Linked DNA regions of Homo sapiens. The protein of the gene in region 2 interacts with the protein of the main gene of each other region in a pairwise test. Each region holds a gene or a part of one and is shown on either strand. Other genes may lie near its edges.

Region 1 (3,816 bases), on a different chromosome or scaffold from region 2:
ACCCGGGAGATGGAAGCTGTGATGAGCCGAGATCACGCCATTGCACTCCAGCCTGGGCAATAAGAGCAAATACAAAAAGTAGCCAGGTGCGGTGGCTCATGCCTGTGAAACTCCGTTTCAAAAAAAGAAAAAAAAAAAAAAAAGAAATTAGTAGGGCATAGTGGCGTGCACCTGTAATCCCAGCTACGCAGGAGGCTGAGGCAGGAGAATCCCTTGAACTGGGGAGGCAGAGGTTGCAGTGAGCTGAGATCATGCCACTGCACTCCAGCCTGGGCAACAGAGTGAAACTGTCTCAGAAAAAGAAAAAAAATTAGCCGGGTGTGGTGGTGGGCTCCTGTAATCCCAGCTACTCGGGAGGCTGAGGCAGGAGAATCGCCTGAACCCAGACAGTGGAGGTTGCAGTGAGTTGAGATTGTGCTACTGCACTCTAGTGTGGGTGACCCAGACAGACTCAGTCACACACAAACACACAAAGTCCAGTTCTCTCATAATGGCCGTATACACCACAATCTGAACACCAGCATCAGCTGCAATTCCCAACATTGGCATTTTGAGTTGGGCAATGATAAGGACGGAAGGTACTTTAGAGGCAACCCAAATGCCTTGAACTGAAAATTAGGATCTTCCCCATCTCCAGGCCTGAATATTGGACAAGATTTTCTTGCAGAAGAGCAGGAGCTCCCTTATATTTGAATTGTGACAAAGTCTCTTATATAGTTGAATGATTTATTACTTTTTTTTGAGATGGAGTCTCACTCTGTCACCCAGTTTGGAATGCAGTGGTACAATCTTGGCTCACTGCAGCTTCTGCCTCCCAGGCTCAAGCAATTCTCGTGCCTCAGCCTCCCGAGTAGCTGGGATTACAGGAGTGTGCCCCCATGCCCGGCTAATTTTCATATTTTCAGTAGAGATGGGGTTTCACCATATTGGCAGGGCTGGTCTCCAACTCCTGACCTCAAATGATTTGCCCAGGTAGGCCTCCCAAAGTGCTGGGATTACAGGTGTGAGCCACAGCGCCTGGCCTTAATTACTTAAAAAAAAAACAAAAACACTAGGTATGTTTGGGGATCACTAAAAAGCCAAAGAGTAAGTAGTTATATTTTGGCATTTGTAAGTATACACCTATACGATGAATGAAAGAACTGTTCTAATGTTGTGCAGAATACTCGTGGCTTTTGATAAAATTTCCAGGATCAGCACCATACAAAAATTCAAGCTGTATTTTATTTTTATTTTTTGAGAGGGAGTCTTGCTGTGTCACTCCGCCTGGAGTGCAATGGTGCAACCGTGGCTCACCGCAACGTCCGCCCCCCAGGCTCAAGTGATTCTCCTGTTTCAACTTCCCGAGTAGCTGGAATTATGGATGCCTGCCACCATGCCTGGCTAATTTTTGTATTTTTAGTAGAGATGGGGTTTTACCACGTTGGCTGGGCTGGTCTCAGACTCCCGACCTCAAATGATCTGCCTACCTCAGCCTCCCAAAGTGCTGGGATTACAGGCATGAGCCACCACACCTGGCCTGTATTTTACTCAATTTTGGTAAAAGAAAAGATAATGTGCTTTGGAAAATTTTAGAATGACAATGATATTAATGAAGAAGTATTTGCAGTTTGACTAAAACTAGCTGATTCTGGAATGATACAGTAGCTTGGAAAGATTTTTCAAATTCTTGTCTATTTTTTTTTTTTTTGAGACAGAGTCTTGCTCTGTAGCCTAGACTGGAGTGCAGTGGTGCAGAGATCTCACTGCAACCTCTGACTCCTGGGTTCAAGCGATTCTCCTGCCTCAGCCTCCTGAGTAGCTGGGATTACAGGTGCCCGCCACTACGCCCAGCTAATTTTTTGTATTTTTAGTAGAGGCAGGGTTTCACCATGTTGGCCAGGCTGGTCTTGAACTCCTGACCTCGTGATTTGCCTGCCTCGGCCTCCCAAAGTGCTGGGATTACAGGCGTGAGCCACCGTGCCTGGTCCCTCAAAGTAGATTTATCACATTGACCACACTCCTTTTTTTGTAGGTCTTCTCTCTGAGGACTTGACTTATTTGGAGAATTAAAGTGCTGCAGTGAAGCCTAGAAGTGGACACTAGAGTCCGAAGTTTTTGTCTCCTAACGCTCAGTACAGCACAAGTGAAAACATTTTCACTGCCGAGGCATGGGTTAAAAAACGTTCTTTTAAACAGTTGCTTTCCTTACAAATATATATTCCACTGGAGGAGTCAAAAGAAGCAACATAAACCACAAACCAAGGAGAAACCTCAAAACTAAAGAAACCAGGGACACACAGGGCAAGTCACACTTACTTAAGAGATCCTGACAGCTTGGGCTGCTGAAGAAGTTTATCTGCATGATTCAAAGCCATGAGGTTATCACCCAAAGCCAGAGCCACGTAGGCACTGCAAGCAAGTATGGAGCACCTATAACACAAAAGGGAAGGGGCCGAAAATCTCATTTTAAACATTGATAATGGTTATATTTGCTAAATAGGAAGAAATGCCCTTTAGCTGTGACAATCTGGACACCAGGAAAGAGGAGAGGAAGCCACGGTACTAATGGTAAGAATTAGATTGATGTATAAAACAATTCTGAAACACAGTTTGGCTATTTACATAAGTCATCTTTAGCTTTCATCCAATTGACCCACATCCCCAACAAAATAACCAATGGATTACAATACATAGCCTGTATGTATGTATGTATGTATATATGTATAGATAAATACACACACACACACACACACACACTATATATATATAGCCTAATGAGAACTAACTTCCATAGAAGTTTGCTTTTAATAACCTAGGAATAAAGCTATAGAATGAGATCTTATTCTTTCTACATATATTTGTGATATGCTAAGAAATAATTAACTTACTAAAGCATTCATTTACTTTAAATGTTCTTTTCTCAACCAATTAAGTCTACAGTTCTTGCTAAACCATAGTATCAAGAGTAACTAAAAAGTTTTATTCACACAGTTACTATTCTTCTAAAGGAATACTGAAGGAAAAAAAACAGGTTAAACAAACATATGTGAAGACAACGTTTAAGTTACATTGATTTCGCTAAGTTGGATTGGAAATCTAAGTTTCTATAATATTTGGTTTTCTACTTCACAGACAGCTCATTTAAAACAAGTCTGGTTAAAGACTTAATACTAATAGATCACTTGAATGTTAAACAACTGCTCCACAAAGCAATCTTAAAATAAACCCTTGTCAAATAGAAATGAAGTCTGAATGGCTAACCACAAATGACCTCACTCAGATACAGGGTTTTGAGTTATGTTTACAAATTACAATACACATATGTATCATTAAGTGCATTCAGGTTGTAATTTTAGTCTAAGGAAGAATGTAACCAGTATATCACCACAGAGTTTTGAAATGTTCTGAAATCCTCTGACTAGAAATGGCTCTTCCTATAAAAAGCACAGCTGGGCAAATTCAAAAGTATTCTGTTTCCTCTTCACTTGCTAACTTTTGGTTCCTAGAATCTTAGAAAACTACCCTAGAATTTGGTTCCTAGAATCTTAGAAAGGCAGCCCCTCAACTCTTAACAACACAGAAAAGTAGAGTGGTCCTTGAGAAGCATAACGAAATTGAGGTTTATGCCTTATACTACCATGGGAGGGCTGAAAGACTGTCTAGTGTGGTTCCTTGTTTAACTGATGTGGAAACAGAGACTCAAAGTGAGTAAACATAATCTTTAGCTTAGTGTGTGATTAGTTAGGTCTAATATTTGACATTGTAGACTCCCAATCCGCTGTTCTTCCCATCCAATCACATTGCTTCTTTATTAACTCACAAGACCACTTACAA
Region 2 (3,816 bases):
TCCGCCTGCTGCTGTGCCTCCTCCGCCATCTCAGCCGTCTCATACTCCAGCACCGCGAAGCCCTTCAGCTGCCCATCCTGGCCGCACGCCAGCTGCCGGAGGAAGGCAGGCAGTCATGAGCATCTGGGCAGCAGTGACTGCACCACCCCGGGAAGTGACAACCGTAACCAGACTCAGCTGCCCCATAAGGGTGAACTCCACGCCAGGCCTCCACTGCCCTGTGCCTCATTCCTGCATCAGCTCATCTGATTTTCCCAATGACCCTGGGAGGCTGCATCATACCCATTTCTCAGAGAAGGCAACTGAGGCACGGAGAGGTCAGCGCACCCAAGGCCACACAGCTGGAGGGAGGGCGGAGCTGGGAGCCACCTCACCAACAAAGCCAAGGCCACGGGCGGATGCGGTGGCTCACACCTGTAATCCCAGCACTTTGGGAGGCCGAGGCGGGCAGATAACCTGAGGTCGGGAGTTCGAGACCAGCCTGACCAACATGGAGAAACCCCGTCTCTACTAAAAATACAAAATTAGCCAGGCGTGGTGGCACATGCCTGTATTCCCAGCTACTTGGGAGGCTGAGGCAGAGGCAAGAGAGTCACTTGAACCTGTGAGGCAGAGGTTGCGGTGGGCCGAGATCGCGCCACTGCACTCCAGCCTGGGCAACAAGAGCAAAACTCCATCTCAAAAAAAAAAAAAAAAAAGAGATAATCAGCAACGGGTGGGGAAGGAAGGGCTCTCGTTCCAGACAGTGGCCAAGCCAGGTAGCAGTGCTAAGGGAAGTGGTTGGGCTGGGCACCGGCACTTGCTGAATGCCCGGGCAGCAAAGGTGCAGGTAGCAGCCCTTCACCTCTGCCCACGCCCTGTGCCAAGGTCTGGGCACAGATCTCCCATAACCAAACCTGTCGGCTTTTGTTTTGTTTTGTTTTTTTTGAGACAGAGTCTTGCTCTGTCACCCCGGAGTGCAGTGATGTGAACTTAGCTTACCGTAACCTCCACCTCCTGGGTTCAAGTGATTCTCCTGCCTCAGCCTCCTGGTAGCTGGGATTACAGGTGTGCACCACCACGCCCAGCTAATTTTTGTATTTTTAGTAGAAATGAGGTTTCACCATGTCGGCAAGGCTGGTCTTGAACTCCTGACCTCAAGCGATCCGCCTGCCTTGGCCTCCCAAAGTGCTGGATTACAGGCGTGAGCCACTGTGCCCGGCCATAAACACACCCATCTTAGGGATGAACAGAGAGAGACTCAGAGGGGTCACAGAGTGATCAAGGCCACACAATTCCTAAGTCGAGGGACTGATGTGTGAACCTCAAGCTGCTTCACTGTCAAGCCCACCCTCCATTCAGCTGGGTCACCTAACATTAAAGGTGGGCTCCTCGGAGGACATCACTTCAACGCCTGCTACTCATCAGATGCTCAACAAATGTTTGGTGAGACCAGGCCCAGTGGCTCGAATCTATAATCCCAGCTCTTTGGGAGGCAAAGGCAGGAGGATCGTTTGAGCACAGGAGTTTCAGACCAGCCTGGGCAACATAGGGAGACCCCATCTTCACATAATTTTTTTTTTTTTTGAGGGAGTCTCGCTCTGTTGCCCAGGCTGGAGTGCGGTGGCATGATCTTGGCTCACTGCAACCTCCACCTCCCTGGTTCAATCAATTCTCCTGCCTCAGCTTCCCGAGTAGCTGGGATTAAAGGCACCTACCACCACGCCTGGCTAATTTTTTTTCTATTTTTAATAGAGACAGGGTTTTTGTTTTTTGTTTTGTTTTTTTTGAGACGGAGTCTCGCTCTGCCACCCAGACTGGAATGCAGTAGTGGGATCTTGGCTCACCACAACCTCTGTCTCCCAGGTTCAGGTGATTCTTCTGCCTCAGCCTCCCAAATAGCTGGGACCACAGGCACATGCCACCACACCCAGCTAATTTTTTTTTTTGTATTTTTAATGGAGATAGGGTTTCACCATGTTAGCCAGGATGGCCTCGATCTCCAGACCTCGTGATGCACCCACCTCGGCCTCCCAAAGTGCTGGGATTACAGGCGTGAGCCACCGTGCCATGAGACAGGGTTTTACCATGTTGGCCAGGCTGGTTTCGAACTCCTGACCTCAAGTGATCTGCCCGCCGCAGCCTCCCAAAGTGCTGGGATTACAGGCATGAGCCACTGTGCCCGGCCTCTACATAAAATTTTAAAAATCAGCTGGGCATGGTGATGCATTCCTGTAGTTCCCCAGCTACATGGGAGGCCAAGGTAGGAGGATTTCTTGAACCCAGGAGGTCGAGGCCGGAGTGTACTCCTCCAGCCTGGGTGATTGAGAACCTGTCTCAAAAAAAAAAAAAATTAAGTTTAGTGAATGTTCGAGTGGAGGAATGAATGGGCAGCTGTTCACAACAACCTGATCATGAAGCACTGCCAGCCCCATTTTGAGATGTGGAAACAGGCTAGGAGAGTACCTGTAGCTGGTCATGACCCTGTGACCTTTGATCTCCACATAAGAAGGTAAGGCCAGGCCAGCGCAGTGGCTCACACCTGTAATCTCAGCACTTGGGGAGGCCGAGGCAGGTGTATCACCTGAAGTCAGGAGTTCAAGACCAGCCTGGCCAACACGGCGAAACCCCATCTCTATTAAAAACACAAAAATTAGCTGGGTGTGGTGTCAGGCGCTGTCATCCCAGCTACTCGGGAGGCTGAAGCTGGAGAATCACTTGAACCCAGGAGGCGGAGGATGCAGTGAGCCAAGATCGCGCCCCTGCACTCCAGACTGGGTGACAGAGCAAGACTCTGTCTTAAAAAAATATAAAATAAAATAAAAGAAAGGTGAGGCCATTGTGCTAACTCATCTTCTGTCCTGAGCCCGCACAGGCGGCCTGGTACATAGCAGGCCTGGTACGTAGCAGGTGTCCAAGAGAAAGCAGCAGAATGGATGAATGATAAGTAAACAGAGAGGGGGTTCCCGTGGCTCATGGATACTCAGTTTTTGTTTTTTTTGTTTCTTTGAGACGGAGTCTCGCTCTGTCGCCCAGGCTGGAGTGCAGCGGCACGATCTCCACTAACCGCAACCGCAGTCTTCTGGGTTCAAGCAATTCTCCTGTCTCAGCCTCCTGAGTAGCTGAGATTACAGGCGCGTGGCGCCATGCCTGGCTACCTTTTTTTTTTTGTTGTATTTTTAGTAGAGACGGGATTTCTCCATGTTTGTCAGGCTGGTCTCAAACTCCTGACCTCAGGTGATCCGTCCGTCTCGGCCTCCAAAGAGCTGGCATTACAAGCGTGAGCCACTGCGCCTGGCCTGTTTTTTTTTTTTTTTTTTTTTCTGTTTTTGAGATGCAGTGTTGCTTTGTCACCCAGGCTGGAGTACAGTGGCGTGATCTCAGCTCACTGCAACCTCCACCTCCCAGGTACAAGCGATTCTCCTGCCTCAGCCTCCTGAGTAGCTGGGATTACAGGCCTGCACCACCACACCTGGCTAATTTTTTTTGTATTTTTAGTAGAGACAGGGTTTCACCATGTTGGCCAGGCTGGTCTTGAACTCTTGACCTCAAGTGATCCACCTGCCTCGGCCTCTCAAAGTGCTGGGATTACATGCATGAGCCACCTCACCCAGCCTGTTTCTTGTTTTAAATATAGAGATGGTGTCCCACTATCTTGCCCAGGCTAGTCTTGAACTCCTGGTCTCGAGTGATCCTCCTGCCTCTGCCTCCCAACAGACACCTAGTTTAAATGGGGCACCAATACCCCACTTACACGAGAGGGACCCACTCAAGCCCACAGAGCTGGGGGTCCGAGCCCAGGACTGTCTCTCTGTTTTTGAGATAAGGGTCTAGCTC

Evidence for each region.
Region 1: the proteins of RAVER1 (region 2) and CNOT10 interact in binary tests that used the Homo sapiens proteins (3 or more experiments, as listed by UniProt).

What each region holds. Positions count from the first base shown.
Region 1 is NC_000003.12:32,758,054-32,761,869, reverse strand, and holds part of CNOT10 (CCR4-NOT transcription complex subunit 10), read right to left. Parts: intron 2,413-3,816; coding exon 2,299-2,412; intron 1-2,298. UniProt on the Homo sapiens protein: Component of the CCR4-NOT complex which is one of the major cellular mRNA deadenylases and is linked to various cellular processes including bulk mRNA degradation, miRNA-mediated repression, translational repression during translational initiation and general transcription regulation.
Region 2 is NC_000019.10:10,323,475-10,327,290, forward strand, and holds part of RAVER1 (ribonucleoprotein PTB-binding 1), read right to left. Parts: intron 93-3,816; coding exon 1-92. UniProt on the Homo sapiens protein: Cooperates with PTBP1 to modulate regulated alternative splicing events. Promotes exon skipping. Cooperates with PTBP1 to modulate switching between mutually exclusive exons during maturation of the TPM1 pre-mRNA.